Linked DNA regions of Homo sapiens: regions 1 and 2 are each linked to region 3. The links come from fine-mapping of genetic effects on gene expression. A gene starts in region 3. Each other region holds a variant in brackets. All regions are shown on one strand. Distances are from middle to middle.

Region 1 (10,536 bases), 38 kb before region 3:
CTGCCTCACTGTGTGCTGGGACATCATGTCTGCAGCTTCACAAGACAGACCACACTCTAACAAAGACTTCCGCCTTAGACGGCTTGTCCACAGGGCAGTGAGACGGTCCAGCCAGCTGCTTGGTGGAGTGCAGTCATGGGCAGCATGGGCAGCTGAGCCCAGATAAGAGCTGGGGGAGTGAGATGTTCATGTCGGATTTCAGAGGTGGCAGCACCAGACTGACGGTGAACCAGTAACTGTGATGACAGCACATTCACAAACCCCCCTGAATTTACTACGGGGTTGAGAAAATGCAAAGAAACCCCCTCCCTGGTGCAGGAGCAACTGTTCTGTGGGTAGCGATGGAGATTGCAGGAAACAGGGCATTCCGACTCCTGCACCAAGTGTCCAGAGCCCTTCCTTGCCCTTGGGGGACAGTTATAGAATAATCACCCACAGTAAGATTGCACGAATGCATGAGTAAATTAAGAAAAGTCTGTGTGACATAGGAGAGCCTTTCAACGAAGCCATGAGACACATCGCCAAACTCTTCCAGTGTATAAAACCACCAGCTGGCTAGTAAACAGCCCCTGAAGTCAAGACTTGGGGTAGTAGTAAATAGTGGTCACATTTTATTAAACAGCTCAAAATTTTTGTTGAAATGATTGCCTTATATAAAAATAAACACATCAACTCTATAATTATGCATGATGGCTTTTATTTTACGTTTCCCTTAAAAGAGACTGAATTCTGGACCCAACAAACAGATCGTTATGAAATAATGTTCCACACCCTTTGTGGTTGAATAAGAGAAACGGTTATACACAATTTCCATTTCATAGTCCCCCCAAAACTAAATGTGCATTTTCCAATATTCCTTCTGCTGCAGAGCAGAAAATGTATATCTGAGTGCACAGGCATTTCAGCACCACCAAAATATTCCATGCCTGATGGCAATTACGTAACTGTTACCAAAAAAATCCCATGGTATTTTAAAGATAAACTGTGATGATTTCCTCTAGCAATCTCCCATAATCACATGTGTCACCAAAAGGAACTATGTTTTTTAGAAACAATCTATTAATTAAAATTATACTAATTCAACAATATTAAGTGACTATATCAAAAGACAAACTTTTTTTCTTTTTGAAATAGAGTCTTGCTCTGTTACCCAGGCTAGAGTGCAATGGCATGATCTCGGCTCACTGCAACCTCTGCCTCCCAGGTTCAAACAATTCTCCTGTCTCAGCCTCACGAGTAGCTGGGATTACAGGCACACACCACCACACCGGAATAATTTTTGTGTTTTTAGTAGAGACAGGGTTTCACCATGTTGGCCAGGCTGGTCTCGAACTCCTGATCTCAAGTGATCCACCTGCCTCGGCCTCCCAAAGTACTGAGATTACAGGCATGAGCCACTGTGCCCAGCCAAGACAAACTTTTGAGATAACAAGAGAATGGGGTAGATTATGTTTTGAGATGCTGGTTTGCTTGTTTGTGTTTAAATAAAAGATAGCAAAATAACTCATCTGGACTCTTTCTGATACTTAGTGTAATCTTGTTACCAAGTCCAGGAAACAAAGGTCAATAGAGAAAGAAGTGTAAAAGGTCCTCAGTAGTGGGAACTTGTTGAATTGGAGAAGAAGGACATAAGATTAAAAGTATCTAACATGGAGCTTGGGAAAAGAGGGAGAATGGAAGAAGCGGAAGGGAATGAAAAGTGTCCATCAGTGTGGGCCTGGGAAGTCTGAGTGAGGTCTTCTCACGCCAGCATTTTCCGCGCTGATCTATCCACTCATGTCTGCGACCCTGGCTCTGCCCACAGAGGACACAGCTTCCCGAGAAAGAGAAAACACGATAAAACACGATAAAGAAGATGATTTTTAGGATATCTAAAAGAGAGGCCTCATATTTCAGCTGCTGTTTAAAAGCTATTCTCTCAAGTGCTGATGTCTTCTAGAGTATCAGTTCTTTGAAGGAGTCTCCTTATTGTTCAATCCCCTTTTCACGTTTTAGACTCAAGACTTAAAATGGAAAGGAAATAACCCACAAAATATAAGCAACTTAAATGCTGGTTTTAAGACAATGTATCTACAAAAAGCAATTCTGTTTAGAGATTTTATATTATTCATAAAATAAAAAGCTCTGTTTACTAATAATAAACCACTCCAACTTTATGTATTTTTTTAATGGTCAGCCTTTATTTGACATTCTAAACCCTATAAATTTGGGATGGGCTGGTAAATTCAATCCACAAATTTAAAACTGTGTTATAATACTATAAGCATTATATCCTACTTAGAAGTGAAGGAGCCAGGATTTGAACCCTTGCTTATCTCAATGGAACCAGGTGCCTATCTCAGTTTATATGTTCTAATAAATTGATCTATTCAAGTAAAGTTATAATTTTCAGCCTGTGTATTTTTTTCTCTGGTGGAAAACTGCACAGTACGAAATAGTTCGCTTTAAAACTAGTAGTAAATTTCTGGTTAAAAACAAGATGTTTAATAGAAGCTTTAATAATGAATATAATGTTATTGATTGGCTTTATATGAAATTAACCATATTGCATGAGCTAATTCATCACCTGCTGTCCACTGTGTGACAAGATGCAAATGACACAGTAGATGCTGACCTTCAAACGAAGTCAGTGACAAGAAAGGATGGCAAAACATATCCAACTATGGGATGGAAAACACCCAAGACCTCAAAGCAACCTCTACAATAAACGTTTGCAGAATAGTTCTGGGGTCTCTGCTGGGGCATCTTGAAATAAAACATATTGAGGACAAGAAAATATTTTTTAACTTTTTTATGCACACAAGGAATGAATGACTTAGTATTATTGAAAATATATGCAAAATTCAAACCTTTTTAAAGTGAGTTGGGAGGTTGTTCAAAGCAATTTGCTGTGTAGCCTTCGAGGAAGAAATGCATCAGTTTATTAAAAAATTATTACAGCCTCTACTTAGACATTGTAATAAGTATGGTAGTTGGTAGAGGGCTATATAGTCATTTTCTGATAATAAAATGAATACTCCAAAAAAATTATAATACCTATTGAGTTAGTTTGATATTTAAGATTATGTGATATCGTCAAAGTTCAAAAGAGCACAAATATACAGATCTCTTTTTTCTGGCATTTTTAGACAAATGCAGACAAACGTGAATATATCCTATTTTGCTAACCTTTTGACATGGATACAAAAGAAGAAAGAATTTTAAGAATTTATGCTAATTTTAAAAACGTAATCAATAAGTTGGCAAAAATGTTATGTGCTGATGGTCTGAAAGCTATAGCAGGAAGAAACACAAAGGCTACCGGTCCCATAAAAATCTTCAGAGTAATCGACTTCTCTGTATATAGAAAGATATTTTAAAACACCAACTGTAAAAATGATGGCATCTTTCAAGACACTATTGAATAATACTACACAAATTGTCCTTTTCATCATAGCTATGGTCTTTGAATGTTATACTTTTTATTTTCTAATGATCTTGTTTGTTAGTAATAGATCCTGTTGCTAAGAAGTTTGAAAACATTGAGAATGTAAAGTTTTATGATGTCTATGATGAAACATCACTTACTGAAAGCATTTCTTCAGGAAGACAATCAAATGAGATAGCTAGATTAGCTATAATAATAGAGCTAGGGTATATCAGCTATTCACTCTGTGCCAGGCACCACGCTAAATGCTTTAAGCTGGTCATTTCATTGCATAATCACAAAAGTCTAATGAGGTTGGGGGTCATGTATTCCCACTTTACAGATGAGGAAACAGAGGCTTTGATGGCTTCAGTCACCTTCCTGGCCAGCTGAAGCAGGAGGAAGCAGGGAGGGCTCACCTAGGGCTTTTTCTAACCCCCGCCCTCCACCCCTTGAACTCTGCCTTCCCGCAGCGCAGTGGCTCTGGTTCCGTGTTTGCCACAGTGCAGGCAGAGCAATCAAGGGTCACTGCATGTCACCTCTCTGTGAGGTGTGCCAAAAGTTATTTGTTAACTTTGTTAAGTAGTAGAGAATCGCCAAGTTCTGTAAATTAGAAAGTATGCAGTTCTCCCTGTGGTAAACTCACTCTCCTCTCCAGTGTGTTCCCACGTGCTTCTGAGCAGAAGTAGCAGAGCTGCAGCTGGCTGGATAGCACCTGCTGTGCAGCAGGAGTGATCCACAAGTATAAATCATACGTCCATGCGTGTCACCACAGAAAAACAGGCCACGCAAACACTGCTGGAAACCAGCAGGCAGGGTCCCAGGACAAACACTTCAGTGCCACAGAGAAAGTGCAGGTAAGCTCCCCTGGGGTGAGTTGTCAAAGGTCTGTCACCTGGACTTTGACAGGCTCTGAAGCACAGGTCACTCAGGTGTGAAATTCTACATGGATTCGGGCCGGGTGCGGTGGCTCATGCCTGTAATCCCAGCACTTTGGGAGGCAGAGGTAGGCGGATCATGAGGTCAGGAGATGGAGACTATCCTGGATAACACAGTGAACCCCGTCTCTACTAAAAATACAAAAAAAATTAGCAGGGCGCGGTAGCGGGCGCCTGTAGTCCCAGCTACTTGGGAGGCTGAGGCAGGAGAATGGCGTGAACCCGGGAGGCGGAGCTTGCAGTGAGCCTGAGCCGAGTTGGCGCCACTGCACTCCAGCCTGGGCGACAGACCGAGACTCCATCTCAAAAAAAATAAATTAATTAAATAAAAACAAAATAAAAAAAAGAAAGTCTACATGGATTCAACATGGGCCTTTTTATTAAATGCCAGTACAGCAGAACAAAATAACAATCTGCTATTCTACACAGCAGGTGGCAAACATAACGAAATCATGATGCTAGGAGATGGAACCCATGAAGAGGTTCAATAAGGGTAGGTACACTTCATGTGCGACTTTATTTAACCTATGTTATAGCACACTTTTCTTATTGTAAAATTGAACTATTATTTTCTTTCTTTTTTTTTCTTTCTTTTTTTTTTTTTTTTTTT[G/TG]AGATGGAGTTTCCCTCTTGTTGCCCAGGCTAGAGTGTAATGGCGCGATCTCGGCTCACTACAACCTCTGCCTCCCGGGTTCAAGCGAGTCTCCTGCCTCAGCCTCCCCAGTAGCTGGGATTACAGGCACCTGCCACCACGCCTGGCTAATTTTTTTTTTTTTTAGTACAGACGGGGTTTCACCATGTTGACCAGGCAGGTGTCGAACTCCTGACCTCAGGTGATCCACCCACCTTGGCCTCCCAAAGTGCTGGGATTACAGGCCTGAGCCACCATGCCCAGCCATCATTCTCTAGATTCACTAAAAGTTATTTTTCAAATCTTTAAAGACATTCACAAATGTAATATATGGATTCTATAAGCATCTTTTAAAATAATGTGTGTGTGTATATATGTATGTATATATACCTATATATATACATACATATATGGATTTTCCCATGTCTCTTATGCCTTCTTTTTCTCTGATATATACATGTATGTATCTTCTGCCCCCTTCCCCAACTTCTGTCACTCTCCCTGCTGTTCAAATTACTTTCTCTGTTATTTGAATAGAAAGGTTTCTTTGTATAAAATTCTGAAGCGTTTATTTTGTCTTTCCTTGTGTATCTATGCCTTAACAATTTTCCTCTAACAAGTCGCTTTCTGATAACACTGCTGAGTATCATTTACATAATTAGGGTATTGATTAGAACTAATAGAGCAAAGGATGAAAGACAGCCATTTGTTACTTAAGGAGGAGGGGTGAAGAGTAAGGAAGATGGTAGTACCGATAATGTTGCCCGATTGGTAGCTTTCAGACAAGAAATAAGTTTTGACAGAAGAACTATCCAATGAGAGTGAAAATATACTCAATGTCCATCAACTACATATACATTTCACAGAGTTCATAATTTATTGAAAATATTCTCCTACCATAAAATAAACTTCAGAGAAACACAGTGAGCTTTCTTATGAATTAATCCTAATGCCTGAAGTCCTAGGAGCTGTGAAATAAAGAAAATAAATAAAATTATGTAAACACATAATATTGCTGAGCAACATGGCTTAGCCCTTAAACAACTTTTTCTTGTTTGAAAGATTTCAAAAAGAAACTACTGTGAAATTTATGTAGGTATTCACCCTATGGGTAGCGCTATGATATTTTAATGAACAATTAGACAGAATGGTGACTGAAGCCAATCACAGAGAGTCTTCAGGGCCATCCCTTCCTCCACTTCCTCATGGACAGGAACAGGAGCATGCACACACACACACAAGTGTGTGAATGCTGACTTAGCTAAGGTGGATCCTTGACAAATATTCTATTTATTTTTAAAAATCTAAATGTATTTATGCATTGATGAGAATTTAAAAATCTCTCTCTTGCTTCTCTTGGTTTGTAAAATCCAGTGCATGTTTTCAATATACAATCGGCACTATTTAGTTTAGACTGGCAGAGATACCCATAGGGACTGGAGGCACTGCCTACAAACCTAAGATGGGGAATCATTACAGATAAAATATGACTGGATCCAAACCCCTTCCCTAAGGGATGCTGAAGCCAAACCAAAACTGCTTTGAAGAGCATAATAAGGAAAAACTGGGTTAGCTTTGGGTTTTGCTGCTTTTAAATCATCATTAATCTGCAGTATCTGCCCTTCTGAATCCTTATAATAGCTAGGTGCTATAAGAGAAATGCCAGACCCACCAAAAGTTGACCAGCAAACACTTGTTGAGTGCCTACCACACACCATGTACAAACAAACCAACTAGCAACTCCTTGGGGGTCTCTGAAACAGGTAATGCTTGGAATCCTGGTTGCAACAACATGGAATATTCTGCTTAATTACAAATGCTGGTGTCAGGAAATGGTTTTTTCCACTTCTCCTATTCCTACAAGTTTCCTTTTTCTCCTACAGAAAGGAGTCTTGTAGCTTGGCACACTGCTTTGAGAAATCTGTGATCATACTTGTAAATAATTACCTATTTGCCCATCAAGGAACTCTTGTGTAGGAATCCACGGATGGTCAGTTCGCCCATCTGTAAACATGAAAGACGGATCACCCAAAGACAGAATTGAAAACCACACGTGGCTGGTACCCAGAAGAGAAATAGAAAGTCAGCATGGCATATGCTCAAATGGGTAACATCAGCCGGGACGTGATGCTCATTCCAAGACACCCTCTGCATTTCCAACAATTCTGCCCGAACTATTCACAAGTTCATTCACAAAGATGAGCCCAGATGTGAAAGTGGCTGAGCCAGGAGTCACATTGGCTGAAAAGTTTGCTTTTTGTCTAAAAATAATTAATAAGCACACAAGTTAATACAATAAAAAAGGTATCTAGACAGTACAAACCCACAAAATAACCACTGTTGAGAATGAGGGGTTTAATGAGAGTGAAGGTAGTTCTGTTTTCAAAGTCTCCTCCTCTTGCAGCCCTGTCCTCTGATGTGTAGTGACATGTGTGCCTCAACCACCATGAATGACACTCCCCTTTGTGTTGCTGGACCCTCCACTACTTAGTGTGTAAAGTTGTTGCAGAACCAAATGTAATGCACCTAACACATAGCTGGTACACAGCAGGGTACAATGTGCCATGAGGCTACCTTAGCAGGAACACCTCCCCTGTCTTCCTCACAGGACACACTGCATACATCCACCCATCTAGGCAGAGGTGGTCTAGTCAGGAATGGGCATGTCACCCAATTCTGGGCAATGGGAGGATGAGGCACCCTCTGCTAGGGCCAGCCTCCAGATACAGGAGAGAGACAAGGCAAGATGCATGCTCCCTCACCTGCCTGGGGAGTTGTGCCTGGAGTTGACAACTGGGGATGAATGTTGTCACCTGAATACTAAGAATGGCAGTGCAGACAGAAGGAAAGGACCTGCATCTTGATAATGCATCTGCACTGTCTATGTGCCTTACCTCCAAAATTCTTGTTATATGAGTATTCAAGCAAGGTTTCTATTATCTTTGCCAGAAAAAGCACCCTAAATGATTCAATAAGCACTTAAATGTGAATGTGGGGAGGAGACGTCAAGAGGAGTGGTCACAACTGTTCTAAGAACCATAAAAACTTCATTCAACAGCATGGAATCTACTCCGAGAGCACCAGACGCACAGTTCATTCAGGTATGTATAGAACTGTTCCTCATTCCCTCCCAACCCCAGGCTCCAAAACTGTCAAAACAAAGAGCCCCCAATTCAGACCTTTTGTTGTTAAAGATATGGAGCACTATTATGAGGTCACAGTCACATCAAGCAGGAGTCTCCATCCCCAGCACCAAGAGACAGCTGTCATCAGTGAAGGACCCCGCAGCACCTGGCATGGGAGTTCCAGGCATTCCCCATAAAGCAGGGCTTGAAGGATTTGCACTTGGTCAGAAAATCATTTTTTAAATTAAATGAAAATATTTATTTTGAAGTAAGTGTAAATTCAGATGCAGTTACAAGAAATAATACAGGCAAATCTCACACATATTTGTCCAGTTTCTCCAGCATTCATGTCTTGCAAAGCTATGGTACAATGCCACCAGGATGTGGATGTTGATACAATCAAGATTCTGAGCACTTCCATCACCACAACCATGCCTCCTATTTCATTTTTTAATAGGATCCATGTCCCTCCCCACTGCTCCCATCCTTAATCCCTGGCAAGCACTAAGCTGCTCTCCATCAATATAATTTTGTCAGTTCAATAACATTGAATAAATGGAATCACGCAGTGTGTAACCTTTTGGGATTGGCTTTTTCTTTGTTTTATATATTTCTCTGGATATTCATGTAAGTTGTTGCTTGCATGAATAGTTCATTCCTTTTTATTGCTGAGTACAATTCCACGGTGTAGATGTACCATGGTTTCTTTAACCATTCACTTGCTGAAAAATATTTGGGCTGTTTCCAGTTTGGGGTTATTACAAATAAATCTGCCATGAACATTTGGCTACAGGTTTTTGGGTGAAATGAAAATAAATTTTCACTTCTCTGGGATAAATGCCCAGGATTGTAATTTCTTGTTGGTATGATAGTTGAGTGCTTAGTTTTTTAAGAAATTGCCCAGCTATTTGCAAAAGTAGATGTGCCATTTTACATTCCTACCTGTCATATATGAGACCCAGTTTCTCTGCATCCTCATCAGCATTTGATGTTGCCGGTATTTTTTATTTTAACCATTCTTATATGTGTAGAATGATCTCTCTCCTGTGGTTTTAATTTACATTCCCTCATTGGCCAATAGTGTTGAGAACAGCTTCTCATGTGCTGATTTGCCATCCACATATTCTATCCAGTGAAATTTCTATTCATGACTTTTGCCATTTCTAATAATTTTGGGGGGTCTTCATTGCTTTTGGGTTTTGAGAGTTATAACCTTGTTTCAGCTATTATATTTATTTTATTTTTCTATATACATTTTAGAATAATATTGTCTATATCTACAAAAAATCTCACTAAGATTTTGATAGGAATTGTGTACGTGTATATCAATTTGGGTAGAGTTGGCACCTTTACTTTGTTGAGTCTTTCAATTCATAAACATGGTATGTCTCTCAATTTATTTAGATCTTCTTTGACTTCTTGCATCAGTGTTTTGTAGGTTTCTCTACACAGTGCATGTTTTGTGTGTATTTTTGTAGTTTTGTATCTTTAATTTTGTAGTCCACGTGGTAGTACAAAGAAATATTAGTATGAAGAGATATTATTAGTATAGAGAAATATAGTTGATTTTTGTATGTTGATTTTGCATCCTGTGAACTTGAATTCACTTAGTTCTAAGAGTTTTTTTGTAGATTCCTTGTTTTTTCTAAGGAGACAATCCTGCCATCTGTAAAGAGGAAGAATTGTGAATTTTTTCCTTTCTGGTATACATGCCTTTGATTGTCTTTTCCTGCCTTATTTCAGTGACTATACCTTCCACTGCTATGCAGGATTAGAGCAGTGAGAGCAGACATGCTAGGCTTCTTCCCAGTCCCAAGGGAAAGCAAGCTGTCTTCCACCACTAGTATGTCAACTGTAGCATTTTTGTAGATGATCTTTATGTGAGATTTTCAAAGTGTTCCTGTATTCCTATTTTTCTGAGAGTTTTTATCCTGAATGAGTGTTAAGTTTTATCAAATGCTTTTTCTGAATCTATGCACATGATCGTGTGATTTTTCTTCTTAGCCTGTTAATAGGGCATATAACTTTGGTCAGTTTTTGAATATTGAACAGCCTAGCCTCCACACTAGGTTATGGTATATAATTCATTTTATACATTTCTTATTTTGATTTGCTGATATTTTGTTAGGATTTTTGAGTCAATATTTAAGGAGGATAGTGGTCTACAGTTGCTGTTGTTTTGTTTCATCTGATTGTGATTTCAGTATGATGAATTGGGTAGGGTCTTTTCCTCTCCTATTTTCTGGAATAGGTAGTTTAAAATTTATACTAATTCTTCTTTAAAGGTTGGATAGCATTCTCCATGGAAACCCTCTGCCTCAAGATTTCTGGAAAGGAGTAGAGGTTTAATTACAAATTAAATTTTCTTAATATTTAAAGGGCTATTCCAATTACATATCTTATAATAAGTGAATTGTAGTGATTTTTTTTTTCAAGAAA
Region 2 (10,536 bases), 64 kb before region 3:
TTATATAGTGACTTGATGGGACAGCATCATAAGCCACACTTTTTAGGGCAGAAGATAGAAACCTGGAAAAGCCTGGTCCCCCGCTCCAGGGCAGCGGTCATCTAGTCCAGGTGCACACTTCAAAGCCATGTTCTTACCCACTTAAACTATCATACGCTGTCCTCATAGAATCAAAGGGAACTGAAAAGATAGATCTCCTGCCAGAGGTCAGTGAGGGAAAGGCTGATGAATGATAAACAGAAACCAAAACTCAATTTTTATGTTAATTCAGTCTTCCCCATCAAACTAAATCATTTTGGACAGAACGGGCAAAACAAATATTGTTAAGAGGAAATTTAAGCCCAACAAGACCATAAGAAAAATGTGATTTGCTTCTAACTTTTCTCAATAGTAGTTTGAGCCTCTTGGCCAAAATAAATTATATACCCAAATAGATAAACTGTCTACACTTGTTGAACGAATGGGTGGCCAGGACCACTGCTCCACTGTGGGTCATCATGACTGCCTGTAGACAGGGGAGGAGACTAGAAAGATGACACCAAGAGCAGGAACGTGGGAAGTGAGTGTCCAGTTTGACTACAGACATGAAATCCTGCTGCAGAACTTAGGCAAGAATCCAAGGATGCTGTGCAAGTGCTTAGAAAGGAGACAGTGATCACTCAAGTCACCAGAGGTTTACAAAGAATAAGGAGCTATGCCAACAAGCCTGATTTCCTTTGTTGTCCAGCTGGCAAATCAGGGATACATGGCAAACAGGATTCCAAGAAGGCGTCTATCGGGGTCTCCTTCTGTCCTTTGGCATGTGGGTTGAAGAATGCAGGAGACAACGAGTGATAAATGTGATCAAGGGTACTGTGGAGGGCAGCTTCCAGTGTGAGTTCAGGCCTGTTTTCAGCTCAGGCTTGGCCACTCTTTTCCTTAACCATCTGGAGGAAGGAGTGGAAAGAAAACGTATTAAATTGCTGGGTGACCGGAAGCTGGGTAGGGAATGTAGCAGGCTGGATAGCAAGATGAGGACACCAAAACACCCCAAGTGTCTAGACTGGTGGGCTTCATTAAATCTTTAAATCTTAATAGAGATTTAAAATGCTTTACATTTGGTTAAAAGTTAAGAGAAAAAACAGAAAACAATGTTGCTAATATGTACATAGGGACACAAGGCCCAGCTTCAGCTCTTGGTAAAATATGTTAATGGTTGAATGGAAATTAAATATCAATCAATTTAGCCATGTACCTCCTCCTTGGATATTTCCAAGTCATATCCACTCATCAAGATTGATTCAAAAAGCCTTTTACATCATAAAACTTTTTGTGTCTTCCTGGCCAATGTGATCCTTCTGTCCTTTGTGTTATTAGGACATTTGTTACCATTTTCTTCCTAATACATTGTGGAAAACACCTTATGGGATCCCTAAAACCTCTGCCTGGTTTGAGGCCTTGACTCCCATTTTGAACATCTCTCAGTAAAGTAGCTGCTCAATAAATAGTTATTAAACGAAAGCTATTGTATGAGTGTAACAAAACAGTAGTGTGGTCTTGGGTCAAGTTGATATAAATGCAGTGTCTGGACATGGGCCAAGAGGGTGAATTGAGATTAGGGCACTTCCAAATGGAGGTAATTGGGGTTTGAGATCAGATGGGGGCAGAATTTGAAATCACTCCATAAGAGGAACAGTAGAAAGAACCAGAAGATAAGTTTGTTGGTGTTTTGGGTGTTTGATTTTAGCTGGAAAATAGAAGACTTGGGACAGAGAGAAGTGAGATATAACATGATCTTTATCTGAGCCATTTGAAGGACTTTCATGTGAAGGAGGGGTATTCTTTGCTCTGTTTTGATTAAGTGGGCAAACCAAAGGAAACCATATACACATAGAAACTTTCTAAAACTTTAGAATGGGTCAAGGATAGAATACGGTGTCTCAGTAAGTCATGAGTCCCATTTACTGGATGTTTTCAGAGTTGAAATACCATCTACAGATGGCATTATCTAGGCAATTGACTAGGATTTATTGTAGAACAAGAGCATATAACAGCCTATCATACAATCACCATCCTCCAACAGAGTGGCACATTTGTTACAAATCATGAACCTACAATGACACATCAGTATCCCCGAAGTCCATAGTTAGCCTTAAGGTTCACTCTTGAAATTGCATTCTATAGATGTTGACAAATGTCAAAAAAGTCTGTGTCTGGATTTATTGATTGCTTGATTGCCAGTAAATATCCAATTGTTCCAGCACCGTTTGTTCAAAAGATTATCATTGATTCATTGTGTTGCCTTTGCTCCTGTGTCAAAGTTGAGCTGACTATATTTATGTGGGTCTATTTCTGGGTTTTTCTATTCTGTTTCATTAATTTGTCCATTCTTTCCAATAATACCATGATATCTTGATATCTTGATTACTGAAGTTTTAAAGTAAGTCTCGAGGTCAGGTAGTGCCAGTCTTTCAATTTTGTTCTTCTTCAATATTGTGTTGGCTATTCTGGATCTTTTGCCTCTCCATATCAACTTAGAATCAGTTTGTCAATATCCACAAAATACTGGGATTTTGATTGTAGGATTTAAAAAGAAGTGACATCTTGCCAATATTGAGCCTTCCTATACATGAACATAAAATACTTCTCTATTTTTTATTTTTTTATTTCTTTTACCAGATTTTTCTAATTTTCCTCATAAGATGCTGTACATATTTTGTGAGATTTATACCTAACTATTTAATTTGTTGAGGTCCTAATATAAAGGATATTGAGTTCTTAATTTCAAATTCCAATCATTCATTCCCAGTATATAGAGAAACAATTAACATTTGGATCCTAACCTTGTATCCTGCAAACTTTCTATAATCGCTTATTAGTTCTAAAAGGGTTTTTGGTTGTCGATTCTTTGGGATTTTCTACATAGATGATCATGTCTTCTGTAAACAAAGATGGCTTTATTTCTTCTTTCTCCATCTATACATCTTTTATTTCCTTTTCTTGTCTTACTGCACTAGCTAGGACTTCTACTATGATGTTGAAAAGGAGTGGTGCCTGACAAACACTATTTCAACAGGTGACCAAGGTCAACATCTTTTTTTTTCTTTGAGACGGAGTCTTGCTCTGTTGCCCAAGTTGGAGAGCAGTGGTGTGATCCCAGCTCACTGCAACCTCCGTCTCCCAGGTTCAAGTGATTCTCATGCCTCAGCCCCCTGAATAGCTGGGATTACAGGCACAGGCTACCATACCCAGCTAATTTTTTGTATTTTTAGTAGAGACAGGGTTTCACCACATTGGCCAGGACGGTCTAGAACTCCTGACCTCAGGTGATCCACCCGCTTCAGGCTCCCAAAGTGCTGGGATTACAGGTGTGAGCCACCGCGCCCAGCTCAAGGCCAACATTTAAAGTGATATATCTTATTGATAGTATGTACCCTTGATATGATGTGATGAAAATGGCATTTTACCTCTGTGATCTTCGTCCCAAAACCCATAACGTCAGTCTAATCATGAGAAAAACATCAGACGGCATCTGCCAAAACAACTGTCCATTATTTCTCAAACCTGTAAATGTCACTAGAGAGAAGGGAGTTTGAGAAATAGTCAATCAAAAGCAGCCCAAGAAGACATGCTCACTAAAGGTAGAGTGTACCTAGTGTACCCTTGTAGACAGGATCCTGGAACAGAAAAGGGGCAGTAGGTAAAAGCCCAAGAAACCTGGATATAGTATGGACTTGTGTTACATAATTTATCAATATTGTGATAAATCATAATTTATCAATATTGTGATAAATCATAATTTATCATTAATTTGTGACAAATAAACCACAGCTACATAAGATGCTAACAGTAAAAGAAATTCTATATGGGAGCGGGAGAGGCATATGGGAAGTCTCTGTGCTATCTGCTTAATTTCTTCATTAATCCAAAGGTGTTGTAAAAAAATAAAGTGAATTAATAAGAAAGGTGGGATCTCTGAAGTAATAGAACTGCTCAGCATGGGGGGAGGAGCCAAGATGGCCGAATAGGAACAGCTCCAGTCTACAGCTCCCAGCATGAGCGATGCAGAAGACG[A/G]GTGATTTCTGCATTTCCATCTGAGGTACCGGGTTCATCTCACTACGGAGTGCCAGACTGGGCGCAGGTCAGTGGGTGCGTGCACCGTGCACGAGCCGAAGCAGGGCGAGGCATTGCCTCACTTGGGAAGCGCAAGGGGTCAGGGAGTTCCCTTTCTGAGTCAAAGAAAGGGGTGACAGACGCACCTGGAAAATCGGGTCACTCCCACCCGAATATTGCGCTTTTCGGACTGGCTTAAAAAACGGCGCACCACGAGATTATATCCCGTACCTGGCTCGGAGGGTCCCACGCCCACGGAGTCTCACTGATTGCTAGCACAGCAGTCTGAGATCAAACTGCAAGGCAGCAGTGAGGCTGGGGGAGGGGCGCCTGCCATTGCCCAGGCTTGCTTAGGTAAACAAAGCAGCCGGGAAGCTCGAACTGGGTGGAGCCCACCACAGCTCACGGAGGTCTGCCTGCCTCTGTAGGCTCCACCTCTGGGGGCAGGGCACAGACAAACAAAAAGACAGCAGTAACCTCTGCAGACTTAAATGTCCCTGTCTGACAGCTTTGAAGAGAGCAGTGGTTCTCCCAGCATGCAGCTGGAGATCTGAGAACGCACAGACTGCCTCCTCAAGTGGGTCCCTGACCCCTGCCCACCGAGCAGCCTAACTGGGAGGCACCCCCCAGCAGGGGCACACTGACACCTCACACGGCAGGGTATTCCAACAGACCTGCAGCTGAGGGTCCTGTCTGTTAGAAGGAAAACTAACAAACAGAAAGGACATCCACACCAAAAACGCATCTGTACATCACCATCATCAAAGACCAAAAGTAGATAAAACCACAAAGATGGGGAAAAAACAGAACAGAAAAACTGGAAACTCTAAAACGCAGAGCGCCTCTCCTCCTCCAAAGGAACGCAGTTCCTCACCAGCAACGGAACAAAGCTGGATGGAGAATGACTTTGACGAGCTGAGAGAAGAAGGCTTCAGACGATCAAATTACTCTGAGCTACGGGAGGACATTCAAACCGAAGGCAAAGAAGTTGAAAACTTTGAAAAAAATTTAGAAGAATGTATAACTAGAATAACCAATACAGAGAAGTGCTTTAAGGAGCTGATGGAGCTGAAAACCAAGGCTCGAGAACAACGTGAAGAATGCAGAAGCCTCAGGAGCCGATGCGATCAACTGGAACAAAGGGTATCAGTAATGGAAGATGAAATAAATGAAATGAAGCGAGAAGGGAAGTTTAGAGAAAAAAGAATAAAAAGAAATGAGCAAAGCCTCCAAGAAATATGGGACTACGTGAAAAGACCAAATCTACGTCTGATTGGTGTACCTGAAAGTGATGGGGAGAATGGAACCAAGTTGGAAAACATGCTGCAGGATATTATCCAGGAGAACTTCCCCAATCTAGCAAGGCAGGCCAACGTTCAGATTCAGGAAATACAGAGAACGCCACAAAGATACTCCTCGAGAAGAGCAACTCCAAGACACATAATTTTCAGATTCACCAAAGTTGAAATGAAGGAAAAAATGTTAAGGGCAGCCAGAGAGAAAGGTCGGGTTACCCTCAAAGGGAAGCCCATCAGACTAACAGCAGATCTCTCGGCAGAAACCCTACAAGCCAGAAGAGAGTGGGGGCCAATATTCAACATTCTTAAAGAAAAGAATTTTCAACCCAGAATTTCATATCCAGCCAAACTAAGCTTCATAAGTGAAGGAGAAATAAAATCCTTTACAGACAAGCAAATGCTGACAGATTTTGTCACCACCATGCCTGCCCTAAAAGAGCTCCGAAGGAAGCGCTAAACATGGAAAGGAACAACCGGTACCAGCTGCTGCAAAATCATGCCAAAATGTAAAGACCATCGAGACTAGGAAGAAACTGCATCAACTAACGAGCAAAATCACCAGCTAACATCATAATGACAGGATCAAATTCACACATAACAGTATTAACTTTAAATGTAAATGGACTAAATGCTCCAATTAAAAGACACAGACTGGCAAACTGGATAAAGAGTCAAGACCCATCAGTGTGCTGTATTCAGGAAACCCATCTCACGTGCAGAGACACACATAGGCTCAAAATAAAAGGATGGAGGAAGATCTACCAAGCAAATGGAAAACAAAAAAAGGCAGGGGTTGCAATCCTAGTCTCTGAAAAAACAGACTTTAAACCAACAAATATCAAAAGAGACAAAGAAGGCCATTACATAATGGTAAAGGGATCAATTCAACAAGAAGAGCTAACTATCCTAAATATATATGCACCCAATACAGGAGCACCCAGATTCATAAAGCAAGTCCTGAGTGACCTACAAAGAGACTTAGACTCCCACACATTAATAATGGAAGACTTTAACACCCCACTGTCAACATTAGACAGATCAACGAGACAGAAAGTCAACAAGGATACCGAGGAATTGAACTCAGCTCTGCACCAAGCGGACCTAATAGACATCTACAGAACTCTCCACCCCAAATCAACAGAATATACATTTTTTTCAGCACCACACCTATTCCAAAATTGACCACATAGTTGGAAGTAAAGCTCTCCTCAGCAAATGTAAAAGAACAGAGATTATAACAAACTATCTCTCAGACCACAGTGCAATCAAACTAGAACTCAGGATTAAGAATCTCACTCAAAACCGCTCAATTACATAGAAACTGAACAACCTGCTCCTGAATGAATACTGGATACATAACGAAATGAAGGCAGAAATAAAGATGTTCTTTGAAACCAATGAGAACAAAGACACAACATACCAGAATCTCTGGGACGCATTCAAAGCAGTGTGTAGAGGGAAATTTATAGTACTAAATGCCCACAAGAGAAAGCAGGAAAGATCCAAAATTGACACCCTAACACCACAATTAAAAGAACTAGAAAAGCAAGAGCAAACACATTCAAAAGCTAGCAGAAGGCAAGAAATAACTAAAATCAGAGCAGAACTGAAGGAAATAGAGACACAAAAAACCCTTCAAAAAAGTTAATGAATCCAGGAGATGGTTTTTTGAAAGGATCAACAAAATTGATAGACTGCTAGCAAGACTAATAAAGAAAAAAAGAGAGAAGAATCAAATAGACACAATAAAAAATGATAAAGGGGATATCACCACCGATCCCACAGAAATACAAACTACCATCAGAGAATACTACAAACACCTCTACGCAAATAAACTAGAAAATCTAGAAGAAATGGATAAATTCCTCGACACATACACTCTCCCAAGACTAAACCAGGAAGAAATTGAATCTCTGAATAGACCAATAACAGGAGCTGAAATTGTGGCAATAATCAATAGTTTACCAACCAAAAAGAGTCCAGGACCAGATGGATTCACAGCCGAATTCTACCAGAGGTACAAGGAGGAACTGGTACCATTCCTTCTGAAACTATTCCAATCAATAGAAAAAGAGGGAATCCTCCCTAACTCATTTTATGAGGCCAGCATCATTCTGATACCAAAGCCAGGCAGAGACACAACAAAAAAAGAGAATTTTAGACCAATATCCTTGATGAACATTGATGCAAAAATCCTCAATAAAATACTGGCAAAACGAATCCAGCAGCACATCAAAAAGCTTATCCACCATGATCAAGTGGGCTTCATCCCTGGGATGCAAGGCTGGTTCAATATACGGAAATCAATAAATGTAATACAGCATATAAACAGAGCCAAAGACAAAAACCACATGATTATCTCAATAGATGCAGAAAAAGCCTTTGACAAAATTCAACAACCCTTCATGCTAAAAACTCTCAATAAATTAGGTATTGATGGGACGTATTTCAAAATAATAAGAGCTATCTATGACAAACCCACAGCCAATATCATACTGAATGGGCAAAAACTGGAAGCATTCCCTTTGAAAACTGGCACAAGACAGGGATGCCCTCTCTCACCACTCCTATTCAACATAGTGCTGGAAGTTCTGGCCAGGGCAATTAGGGAGGAGAAGGAAATAAAGGGTATTCAATTAGGAAAAGAGGAAGTCAAATTGTCCCTGTTTGCAGATGACATGATTGTATATCTAGAAAACCCCATTGTCTCAGCCCAAAATCTCCTTAAGCTGATAAGCAACTTCAGCAAAGTCTCAGGATACAAAATCAATGTACAAAAATCACAAGCATTCTTATACACCAATAACAGACAAAGAGAGAGCCAAATCATGAGTGAACTCCCATTCACAATTGCTTCAAAGACAATAAAATACCTAGGAATACAACTTACAAGGGATGTGAAGGACCTCTTCAAGGAGAACTACAAACCACTGCTCAAGGAAATAAAAGAGGATACAAACAAATGGAAGAACATTCCATGCTCATGGGTAGGAAGAATCAATATTGTGAAAATGGCCATACTGCCCAAGGTAATTTATAGATTCAATGCCATCGCCATAAAGCTACCAATGACTTTCTTCACAGAATTGGAGAAAACTACTTTAAAGTTCATATGGAACCAAAAAAGAGCCCGCGTCGCCAAGGCAATCCTAAGTCAAAAGAACAAAGCTGGAGGCATCACACTACCTGACTTCAAACTATACTACAAGGCTACAGTAACCAAAACAGCATGGTACTGGTACCAAAACAGAGATATAGATCAATGGAACAGAACAGAGCCCTCAGAAATAACGCCGCATGTCTATAACTATCTGATCTTTGACAAACCTGAGAAAAACAAGCAATGGGGAAAGGATTCCCTATTTAATAAATGGTGCTGGGAAAACTGGCTACCCATATGTAGAAAGCTGAAACTGGATCCCTTCCTTACACCTTATACAAAAATCAATTCAAGATGGATTAAAGACTTAAACGTTAGACCTAAAACCATAAAAACCCTAGAAGAAAACCTAGGCATTACCATTCAGGACATAGGCATGGGCAAGGACTTCATGTCCAAAACACCAAAAGCAATGGCAACAAAAGACAAAATTGACAAATGGGATCTAATTAAACTAAATAGCTTCTGCACAGCAAAAGAAACCACCATCAGAGTGAATAGGCAACCTACAGAATGGGAGAAAATTTTTGCAACCTACTCATCTGACAAAGGGCTGATATCCAGAATCTACAATGAACTTAAACAAATTTACAAGAAAAAAACAAACAACCCCATCAAAAAGTGGGCGAAGGACATGAACAGACACTTCTCAAAAGAAGACATTTATGCAGCCAAAAAACACATGAAAAAATGCTCATCATCACTGGCCATCAGAGAAATGCAAATCAAAACCACAATGAGATACCATCTCACACCAGTTAGAATGGAGATCATTAAAAAGTCAGGAAACAACAGGTGCTGGAGAGGATGTGGAGAAATAGGAACACTTTTACACTGTTGGTGGGACTGTAAACTAGTTCAACCATTGTGGAAGTCAGTGTGGCGATTCCTCAGGGATCTAGAACTAGAAATACCATTTGACCCAGCCATCCCATTACTGGGTATATACCCAAAGGACTACAAATCATGCTGCTATAAAGACACATGGACTCGTATGTTTATTGCGGCACTATTCACAATAGCAAAGACTTGGAACCAACCCAAATGTCCAACAATGATAGACTGGATTAAGAAAATGTGGCACATATACACCATGGAATACTATGCAGCCATAAAAAATGATGAGTTCATGTCCTTTGTAAGGACATGGATGAAATTGGAAATCATCATTCTCAGTAAACTATCACAAGAACAAAAAACCAAACACCGCATATTCTTACTCATAGGTGGGAACTGAACAATGAGATCACATGGACACAGGAAGGGGAATATCACACTCTGGGGACTGTGGTGGGGTGGGGGGAGGGGGGAGGGATAGCATTGGGAGATATACCTAATGGTGGATGACGAGTTAGTGGGTGCAGCACACCAGCATGGCACATGTATACATATGTAACTAACCTGCACAATGTGCACATGTACCCTAAAACTTAAAGTATAATAAAAAAAAGAAAAAAAAATTATTAATAAAATTATAACTTAATAAAAAAACAATTAATAAAAAGGCTCTAACAGAATTTTAGCTGTGTGGTGGGGTATAAACCTTACTTTAAAGGAATCCAGTTAATAAATACTCAAGCTTTTAAAAGCAAAAAAAAATAAAAGAACTGCTCAGTATCTTAACTGTGGTAGTGAAGACACAAACATATTCATGGGATAGAATTGCCCAGGGCTAAATACTTGCATGCACACACACACAAATAAGAATAAGTAAAACTAGGCAAATCTGAAGAACAGTGGGTTATATTAATGTCAACATCCTGGTTGTAATACTGCAAGCCTATAGTTTTGCAAGATGTTCCAATGAGGAAAACTGGTTAAAGGATACAACTACATGTGGATCTGTCATCATCTCAGCAAAAATTTCAATTAAAAAAGTAAACAGTTCCAAAAAGAACAGCTTTAAGGGCAGCAAAGAAGGCAGGAATTTGAGCAATTTCATGCCTCTGAAGTCAGTTTTTATGTGAATAAAGAAATATCCAAAAT
Region 3 (10,536 bases):
AAAGGATGAACAAAGCAAGAGGTGCAGCACTGGAGGGGGGAGCAGCACTTGCACTTTCTAAGAAGTGTAGAGAAGAATGGATAGAGCTCATAAGATCATGGAAAGTTGATGACAGTCCAGATGATTTTGACTTTCTTCTGGCTATGAGTGAGTAGATTTGAGGAAATGGGTAGTTTTTTCTGGAGAATATCTACAGGACAAGCAATATTTTCAGGGGAGTAGCAGGTTCAGGGAAGAAAGGTGGAGAGTTGGCTTTGTGCAAAGATGGATCTGGTAAGGTAAACATTCACAGTTGAAATGAGTTTTGTTGGATATGAGTGAAAGGGGTTAGAGAGTGCAGGCTAATAAACAGAGTCTACTAAAGGGGTAACATGATTCAAGGTAGGCGATCTTGGGTGCTTCCTTTTCATTTAGGGAGCAAGAACTATGGAGTTGGGGGAAGTGGTTTAAACAATGGTGGCAAGTATCAGAAGTGATACCAGTTATTTTCTGGTTGACATTGGCTAAGAGGACCAGGCATTGCCTGGTGGGGTCTCTGGGTAGGTCAGGTCCTGTTCTGTGCTTAGTGATGCTCATGAATTCCCTGGTTAGGGCTCAAATGTTGCAAGATGCCCTGGGCTTGGTAAGAAAAAGGTGTGGGTATCTTCTGTCTCTGAGGCAGCTTTGCAGGTAGTACAGTTGCCATGACTCTGGCTACAGTGGCGCATGACCCAGTGCTGAGGGGATCAAGCCCAGCACATTCAGCAGGATTTCTTGGTCAGCTCTGCCAGGTCTCAAAGAGCCAGATTCTTTACCGAAAACTTCAGACCTGCTGACATTATGGCTATCATAATAATTAACTGTCACAGGCCACATCTTAATTTACAACTTTATAAATTACATGTTGAGATACAAGAATCCTATCCTTAGTAAACCTTAGGCATTTGTCTTACTGGCTGGTCACTTGATTACAGTAAAAAAAAAAAAAAAAAAAAAAGTCTAGAAATACGTCAACACCAGTGAATATCAAGTGTGAATTTTGGAGAAAGGTCAGTTTAAATGAAAGCTCTTCTATATTGCCCAGCTCCCTTTAAAGGCTCCATTGTGGTTACTGTACCAGGGACTCAGCCCCAGGGTGCTGCAGGGAAACCTGGGGTTCATTCCTGCTGGAGTGGTTCTCCTACCACTTTCCATCAATACAGACCACACAACATGGACCATGTGGTCAAATTTCAGAGGTACAGACAGATGATAAACAAACAAATGCAGAGATACAGCGAGTGAAATAGACTTAAATATATGGAGAGAGAGAGAGAGATCATGTGATTTAGTCTGGTGGGAAGGAGAGGTTAGAAAAAAACAATTGTTTCACACAGTAGCAAGTGCTAAAAAAATAGTATCAAGGAAGAGAATGGCTGGGTGGAGAAGGGTTCACTTCACTTCACGTAGGGTGTCAGAAAGAGCTCTTTGAAGAGTTGCCACTGGGAGTGGTTGGGGTGAAAAATATGCAGAAGTTGTGCATAAGACAGTGTTCTGTGGGTCTGAATACTGAGACTCTAGCTTGTCACCACAACCCTACAGCAAAGGGGAGAGTGACAAGTGGTAGAGATTTGGAGATTCGACCACCCAAACAACTGGTCACACATATAACTCTTATTTTTGTTATCGCTGTCTCCACAAAATAAAATTAGTAAAGTTGAATTTCTATTATGCAGGTAACTAACCTATTTCCCTTTTATTCAAGCAATTTTATAATAGATTTGTGATATACTTGGAGATCAATTCTATGATGTCATTTCCTCAACAGTTTCCAAAGGCCTTCATCATAAAAGGTCCACATTAAGGAAAACAATTTCATCAAGTCAAGGTCCAAGCTGTTTATCATGGCAACAATCCAGTGAATGCTGAGTCAAAGGGAAGATTGTTTTGCACACAAAACTAAAGGAAACATAGCATTAATAGTCACTTTAATGTACTTCTGTGTTTACAAAGTTATTCATCTTGAGGTTGCTTGGATTTTTGGAAAGTTCTATGATCATTTCATGCACAGTAAAATTTATGTCCAATACGAATTAAACACAATCCTTTATTATTCCATTATTGATTGATTTAATATGAAGTAGCCTCTTAGGCTTAATTGCCTTACTCTGAGAAAGCTCTTGGGGGAAAGCAGTCCTGTGTCTACTCAGCATAAGCAACTAAAACTACAAATAGAAACTTCAACTTGCTTTGAAATGTTATTCACTGACTCAATCAGGCCTGCAACTTGTTTCTAAAGTCTAAAAATATTAAGTTCCAAAACTTCACAAGAATGTAATGAAAGCTCTGAAGTTTACCCGTATGTTGACAAAACATACTCCAAATAAACATTGTGCTTTCCCTGAAAAAGATGATAAGACCTTATTGTAAGGTCAACTCTGCAAATCACTCTCTTAGATAAGTGAGATTCACAAAACAATGCATTTGCATAGATAGATAGAAAGATAGATAGATAGATGATAGATAGATAGATAGATAGATAGATAGATAGATAGATAGATTGGTTGATTTTTTTGGCTAAAAGAACTGCATGGAAGAAAGAACTGGAGGATAAAAGAAGTGGAAGAGGAGGAGGTGACTTACAAAGTTTGCTCAACAGGTTAAGGAGTTTTGGCCCGGCATATTTTAATTTCAACAATCTGTGATATTGCCCCTACATCTTTTTATTATTTTTTTAACTTTAAGGGAACATGGCTGATGGGCTCTAGGCCTTAAACTCGTGAAGGAATAACTAATTAGCTTACCTATAGCAAGCACCCGGTGTATGCGATCTCCCCAGGCCACCAGAAATAACCACCAATGTGCTCACCAACAGCGCAGGCCTGCTCCCCAACACAGGCCTAGTACATCAGGTGGGGAGCCCACAGCGTCTCTTAGTAATTACTGACAACCACTCTTTCGGTTCCTTGTCTCTTGAAGTGAGCAGTGCAGCAATCTCTAGGAATTAAGTATTTGCTACAGCTCTGTGATCCAACAGAAATCAATAAGGTGTCACAGGTAAGTATAATTCAAATATGTCCAGTCTTTCCCTTTTGTTCTCTATGGTCTCAGGAATTTCACTCTTCTAGACAAGGGGATATGTAGAAACACTATTTAAAAATACTACTGTTACAAACTCATAATCACCATCAATTCATATCGGGTAACTGTTGTTAGGACATTTGCTTTAGGATAACACAGTCCATGCCTTTACCAAGCACCCTTTGCTCTAGTTTCAAACAGCATCCCAATCCTTCATTCCACAAACAAATGAAACAGTAAAGAAAAACCAGAGGCCTCGACATTGGAATTATTTCATTTGGGATTATTACTCATGGTTAGTAGAATTTTTCTGCCTTCAGTCTAAAAATGCCAGTATGTGTACAATAACATAGTTTGTCATTTTCCCCTCTGAAGTTAAACGAGCAGGCACTCTGGAGAATACTGTAGATTTGGTGATCCTGGCTGAGCCACCCCTTTTTATTGCTGCCTTAGCTGAAAGAGGATATCCCCTCTGTGATCAGGAAAAGCAGAAAGTCCTCCCACCCTGAAGATGTAAGGAATATCCTTTGTCTGCCGGCACAGAACTTGTCTTTCAAATAAGTAAAGGACCAAGGTTGCTGAGATATTTTCCGGAAAAGCAAGATTGGGCTGTACCCCACACCCAAGTGGTGTTGTCAGCCCGTTTTCATTGGGGGGAATGCCTATTTAAGCAGTATAAAAATTCCTCGTGGCTTTCCTCAGATTCCACAGACAACCTCCATCTTTTGGAAGTGAGATGAGGGCAGTGGGAAAAGAAAAAAACTACAGTCACAAGCCACATAGCGCCATTTAAGTCAACATCAGACAACATTAGGACAGTGGTCCCATAAGATGTAACACTGTACTGGAACACTGCACCTTCCCCAGAGTGCTTAGCACTCTGTTTTAGCTGCCTGCAGCATTCCGCGCTGTGACCTGCTGTGCAGGGGTGCAGCCCAGAAGCAATGGGTTGTACCATACAGCCTGGCGTGCAGTAGGCAAGGCCATCTAGGTTTGTGTCGGTGCACCGTGATGTGCACACAGTGATGAAATCTCCTAGTGACCTCGGAACGCGTCCCGCTCCTTAGGCAACCCGTGGCTGTATTCCAATTTCCCCTTGCTCTCAGAAACACAACTAAAAGCTCGAAGACCTCAGGTGACAGACTGCCTCCTGTTACCTCACCAAGACTGAAAACCTAAGCAGTGGCTCCGCCCAAAGAGCAAGCTTCTAGCCCTCTGACGGGAGGCCCGGCAAGATCGTCCTCTGGACAGCACCTTGCTATTTTGTGACGCTGCTCCAGCCCCCAAGATGTCCAAGATCTTGGGCCTTCCCTTGAGGCGTGACGCTCACGACCCGAAACACCTCTCATACAGCGTGCACACCACATTTCAGATTTTAATGATTTACACTGCAATCAAGCAAAGAGGCTGCGAACTCAAAAGCCAGCAACAACTGAACATTTAAACTCCAACGTCAACAGTCAGAATACAGCCCTCAAGGCGGCCAGCTGGGACCCTGCCGGCGGCACCGCGCACCGAGAACCCAGCGCGAGCAGTCGCTGAGCCGATGGGCGGGGCCCAGCTGTAGCTTTGGCTACGTCGCGGGCAGCCTGGGAGCCAATCCGCGGCGGGCTGAGCCGTTGCCTTGGCTACACCGTCTGTTAGGGCCGCGCACGAGATCAGTAACTGAGACCTCACCGCGTTGACCCAGCACCAGGGCTCGCGGGGGTCCCGCGAGGGTCTCGGTAGCCGCGCGCCCAGAGACCCCCGCCGCGGCCCGATTCTCTGAGCGCCAGACATGAACCGCAAGAAACTGCAGAAGCTGACGGACACCTTAACCAAAAATTGCAAGCATTGTAAGTAAGAATGTAGTGCTGGACAGGCCGAGGCTCCTGGACCGAGCCTGGGTCCCACCCCGTGCTAAGGTCCGCTGTTGTGCCTGCTTCCCGCCTGCTGGGACTCTGTGGGCTACCTACCGCCCCTCCACCCCGGCCCCTTAAGCAGAAGTCAGAGAGGGAATCCCGGGGTGCCAGCTCCTTGCGTTTGATCTTAGGAACCCAGGCCTCCGCCTCTGGTGCTACCTACACTCCCACACATGCATTTACTTGCTTCTCCAACCCTCTTCTTTTACCTGATAGAAACATGTGATGTTAGCCTCAATGAGGTGTAAAATAAATGCTAAAACCAACTGGTCTCAAGAAAAGTAGCACCACCAAGGTAGACCGTGCACTCACCCTGCTTTATAGCTCGCACATACACCCGCAGGTCCAAGTTCTGGAAGCTTACCAAGAGACCCATAGGAGAAAACGGTGCTCAACTTCTCAACATCTTTCGGAGAGATGAGTTGTGTCATCTCATCTGTGCCTCAGAACAATATTTGTTTGGAAACCAGAGTTCAGCACAACTAAACACGTGGTAAAGAATGGGTTCCCAACTTTAGACTCCCACTTTCCAGTGGCCCCTGGTGTTGAAAGATAAAGGAGACTTTGCAGGTGACAAGATGAGCCCTATTTGAAGGCACCTGCTCTAATCTCGCATTTGAAAGGGTGGTCCTAGAATTTCATAGGAAACTTTGAGTTTATATTCAGACTGAAAAACATAATTGCACTTTAGCAAGGAAGCCGTGGGTATGGTTTAGATGAGGAAGATAATTTCCTGTCGAGCAAACTTAGAAGTTGTGTGTGCTAATTGCAAAACTACTGGCCACTTGAAGAAACAGAAGCAACAATCCCCCAAATAACCGAGTCGCTCAAAAAAGAAGGAATAAACATGTTGATGTAGTTTTAGAGATTGTAAGATCTAGTGCATTCTAATTATCATTAGTATCTGATTTAATACCTGGTAAGAAATGCTCTCTTAGTGGATGGTGATATAAATGAATATTATGGTGTGTGTACGCATCTTAAAATGTTTAGGAAAAAAATCCTGTAATTTAAGATATTATTATGACTACTATACTCTGATGAGGGTTTTGTTCTGTTATTGTTTTTCTTAAAACACTTTCATTTCTGGGAGAATAGGTATTCTTCTAGTAAACATCTAGTAAACATTTTTGATAAATATTCAAAAACAATGCAATAGCTGCTATACACAATACTGATTTTGTCCCTTTCCGTAAGTTTGAATTTGATTTAGTCTCTGTTCGGTAAGTTTGAATGCATTGCAGACAATCATTCTGTGAACAATCAAAAGGTGAGTGTATATTTTTAAAGGTAAGTAAAAATATGGCAGGAAAAAGTCTGCTCTTGATTTTTTTGTTTACTAAAAAATTTTCAATGAGTCTTACAAACTTAGATGATTATTAGTTAAAGTCTATAGAAATAGTTATACGTCATGGACATTATAATAATTTTAAATTTTCTTTAACGGAAGAACTTTCCCCTAAAGTTAAATTTTGTTTTAGTTGCAAGACAATAAAGCTATCAAGATTCAATGGATAAATTTTGTAGAATCAAAGAAGAGTGAAAGATCTTAAGAGAACATCTAGTTCATGCACTGTTCTACAGATATGTTCTGCAGGACACATTCACAGCATTCCAAGAAGATGAAAACCTATTCTTGAATTTTCTTGTTTCATTTAGTATTGTATTCTAGAATTTAAGAAATGTTTAGCAATAAAAGTTTTCTTATGGCTAACCTTTGATCCTTTGGGTAATAAATTAAACTAGTTTTTAAAAATTTTTATTTCAGCTGAGATGGAAAAATGGCTAACCAACATCCCCTCTGCTACCATTTTATGTACATGAACAGAGTACATCATTCTTCATGCAGGCTTTTCTTCCGCAACAACTAACAGCTCTTGCTTTTTAGGAGGTTTGTGTGTGTGTGTGTATGTGGTTACATATAACATGAAATTTACTATTTTAACCATTTTAAGTGCTTAATTTCATGGCATTAAGTACATTCACACTGTTCTGCTTGCAACACCACCATCCACCTCCGTAACTTGTTCATTGTTCCCAGTGGAAACTCTACCCATTAAATGTTAACTCACCATTCCCTCCTCATCCTAGTCCCTGGCAACTATCATTCTACTTTGTCTCTATAAATCTGACTAAGTACCTTATATAAGAGGAATCATACAATATGTGTCCTTTTGTGTCTGGCTTATTTGACTAAGTGCAATATCCATAAATGTTCATCTATGTGTCAGAATTTTCTTCCTTTTTAAGGCTGAATGATATTTCATTGTATGAATACACCACATTTTGTCTATCCATTCCTCCATTGATGGACTCTTGCATCTGTCTTTTGACTGTTGTGAATGATGACACTATGAACATTGTTGTACAGGTTCCTGCTTTCAGTTCTTCTGAGTATGTAAATAGAAGTAGAATTCCTGGATCACGCAATAATTGTGTTTAATTTTTATGAGGAGCTATCATACTGTTTTCCACAGTGACTAACAGCTGTTTTTGAAATCATAACCATTATATTGTTTCCTACTATTTATTTGCTGAATCTTTTTTCCCAGACTTTTTAGTGTTTCTCTTTAAATGTGGTTTTCCAAACCAGAAATCCCACAAATGCCTGTACTGACCTCTAGGATGAGGTGTGATTTTTCCATTCCTAGATGCTGTCTTCTGTTATACACACACAGGTTTTGTCCTTGTTTGTTAAAATGCTCAATCACAGTTTTGACTGGTTTCAAAATAAATTTTCCCCAACTTCCGCCCATACTTGGTATTTGAGCTTTTATATTATCAAGACCAGGCAATAACCCTTCCACCTACATTCTCAAATGGGGATTGGAACACAAATAATTAACTCGGTATTTATAACCATGGTCCTTTATACAATAATGTGTATGAGCAAGTATCTGTTTGTGTGTATATCCTTTAAATAAAAATTTCCTTCCTCCAAACTATTACTGAATAGTTGCATGTTAATTTTTACGTAATCCTCAAGAAGAGCCATATTGGGTGCTAAAATATGCTTTAAAGCTTTTTTATTGGAAAACTGGTGACTCTAGTTTCCAAAATCTGGCTTATGAATTAATGAAGGCTAAACTGAAATGAAAATTGTTACCTAATTCTCATGAATCTGACATCTATTTCCAGGGAAAAGAAGTTGTAAATCTCGTAAATGCCATGGTAAAAATACTGAGAAAAAGTTACCATTCTTTAGTCTTACCATTCTTATTTTGAGACGTATTTCTACTAGCCTTGTAGAGTTTAGAATCCGACACCACCATCATTATTCTAGTAACTTGGCTAATACTATCGTATTTTTTTCCCTAAACATGGGAATTCCTGTTTGGAGGGTATGCTGCTTTTTTTATTTCTATTAAGTTAAGGGTTCATGAATCTCAAAACAGGAGAGTCTTCTATTGACAATTACCTATTTGATGTCTTTGACGTTGTTTGTCTGTAAACTTATTGCAAAATTTAAGTTAGAACTTAAAGATTAAGGGTTCATTTTTGTTATATCTATTTTATTATTTCAGTTAATAAATTTGAAGTGAACTGTCTTATAAAGCTTTTTTATGACTTGGTGGGAGGAGTAGAGAGGCAAGGTCTGGTTGTTGGACTGGATCGTAATGCATTTCGAAACATCCTGCATGTGACATTTGGAATGACAGATGACATGATTATGGACAGAGGTAAGAGACACACAAGATTCAAATTAGCCAAATCCAGCCATAACTGAAAAAAAAAGGGTTTGGTGCTTGGACATCCTCTTGGTAGGAAGCTTAGTGTTTTGCATTCCCAGTGTCATTGGAATATACAAATTTAATTTTGAGAAGATCATAGAAAAGGAGGTAATATTGGCTTTATTTTGTGTATTTAAGAAGAAGACAAAGTCATGTTGACATCTTTCTCTTACCTTATATCAGAAAACCTAAAACATTTCGATTTCCACTTAATAAACATAATAAATAGAATAGTTTTAAAAGGACATTTACATTCTTTACATCATAGAAGATATTTCAGTGACAAGATATAATTCTATGCATCAAGTAATGACTTGAGTAACAAAACTATTAAGTATTTTATTTATATTCATATATTTATCTAATATGACCAACATATTTTATAGCAACATATTTATTATTAAATAATGATTAATATACTTAGACATTGAGAATTGTATTTGTTCCCACAAAAACATTTTAAAAATTGAATGTTTAATAAAAGAGTTTCATGATATTATGATGTCTTAGTTTCCTCTTTCGTCAAATGAGAATATTGGACTTCACAAGCTGAAGTGTTCTCTTAATTTTAAAAGTGAGTGATGCCAATGTAGATACTTTACTGAGAGTTATTATGCAGGACAGGTGTTCCATTTAACCTCTCTCCCTTTAGTATTCCGAGGTTTTGATAAAGATAATGATGGCTGTGTAAATGTATTGGAGTGGATTCATGGATTATCACTGTTTCTTCGAGGATCTTTGGAAGAAAAAATGAAATGTAAGATTGCAGGTTGTCCTATTGGTTCGTACATTATGAATAACATATCTAAAGCACTTAAATCAGTGTCTTTCAACCAAGACAGTAAAGTGGGTTTGTTGGTTGGCTGGTTAGTTGGTTTGAATCCCACTAACCTATTTTATGGAATGAATTCAAGTCAATAAAATATGAAAGAAAGTTAATAAAAAGAAAACTCAAGTGATTCTGAGGAGTAATTTATGCGAAGGAAGACACCATAGGCATTACTACATATGCTAATTATGTACATATACATTTATATGTTAAGCATTTGACAGATTTCATTACTTGAATTGTAACCATAAAACTAGAGAATATTGATTCAAGTGTTCTTATTCTTAATTAACTCTCAATTAATTCTGATGAACTCTGCTTATGAGCCATATTTCAATCAGTTTTCCAAGAGTTTCAAGGTGAAGATATTCAAGTTACTGTTCCTTGGTATGCTTTTTCATAATTGAGAATCAGGAAATATTTTCTAAGGATTATTGTATATATCCTAGTATACGTTGACACTTACAATGCAAATCAGGCTGCACTAAGACCTGTGGGTACAGCATCAAGATAGAACTTGGCCCTGAAAAGTTTATCAGAGAAAATATTACCTTACTGATAGCATCAAATTCATGATTTGTTATTTTCTTAAAAAGATTGCTTTGAAGTGTTTGATTTGAATGGTGACGGATTCATTTCAAAGGAGGAAATGTTTCACATGTTGAAGAACAGCCTTCTCAAACAGCCATCTGAGGAAGACCCTGATGAAGGAATTAAAGATTTGGTTGAAATAACACTGAAGAAAATGGTAAATATGGGTAATGTCAAGTTTTTTATTAAAATTTGTGGGCCAGATATGGGCTAGAAATAAGAATTCAAATTATTATAATTTTCAGTTCTCTGCTTGCTTAAATAAAACACATAAATTATGCTCCTCAACATATTAATAGTTCTTTTCAGTTTCACCACCTAACCTCTTATTTTTCTAGCACTTTTTTTTTTTTTGAGACAGGGTCTCGCTCTGTCTCCCAGACTAGAGTGCAGTAGCATGATCACAGCTCACTGCATCATCAAACTCTTGGGCTCAAGCAATTCT

Alleles and levels. Alleles are on the strand shown, and positions count from the first base shown. SD is a standard deviation of normalised expression in the study named.
For the expression in neutrophils of the gene that starts at base 4,700 in region 3, allele G in region 1 goes with a lower level than allele TG (large effect, 0.90 SD a copy in BLUEPRINT).
In carriers of allele G in region 2, the expression in prefrontal cortex of the gene that starts at base 4,700 in region 3 tends to be higher than with A alone (large effect, 1.1 SD a copy in ROSMAP).

Evidence for each region.
Region 1: its variant is fine-mapped to the expression of CLXN in neutrophils (BLUEPRINT, PIP 0.95).
Region 2: its variant is fine-mapped to the expression of CLXN in prefrontal cortex (ROSMAP, PIP 0.95).

Annotation. Positions count from the first base shown.
Region 1 is chr8:48,767,515-48,778,050 of GRCh38, reverse strand. No RefSeq gene overlaps it. Among named protein-coding and RNA genes, the nearest start is that of CLXN, 38 kb to the right of the region's middle. The variant G/TG (reference allele first, on the strand shown) is at 4,955.
Region 2 is chr8:48,793,375-48,803,910 of GRCh38, reverse strand. All of the region lies in intron 2 of LOC105375825 (a long non-coding RNA gene), which reads right to left. Among named protein-coding and RNA genes, the nearest start is that of CLXN, 63 kb to the right of the region's middle. RefSeq lists an enhancer at 4,293-4,855. The variant A/G (reference allele first, on the strand shown) is at 4,054.
Region 3 is chr8:48,729,432-48,739,967 of GRCh38, reverse strand. CLXN (calaxin) reads left to right here and starts at 4,700. Exons shown (of 6, transcript NM_024593.4): 1 at 4,700-4,874; 2 at 8,465-8,620; 3 at 9,324-9,428; 4 at 10,097-10,248. The coding sequence starts at 4,817. RefSeq lists an enhancer at 4,621-5,295.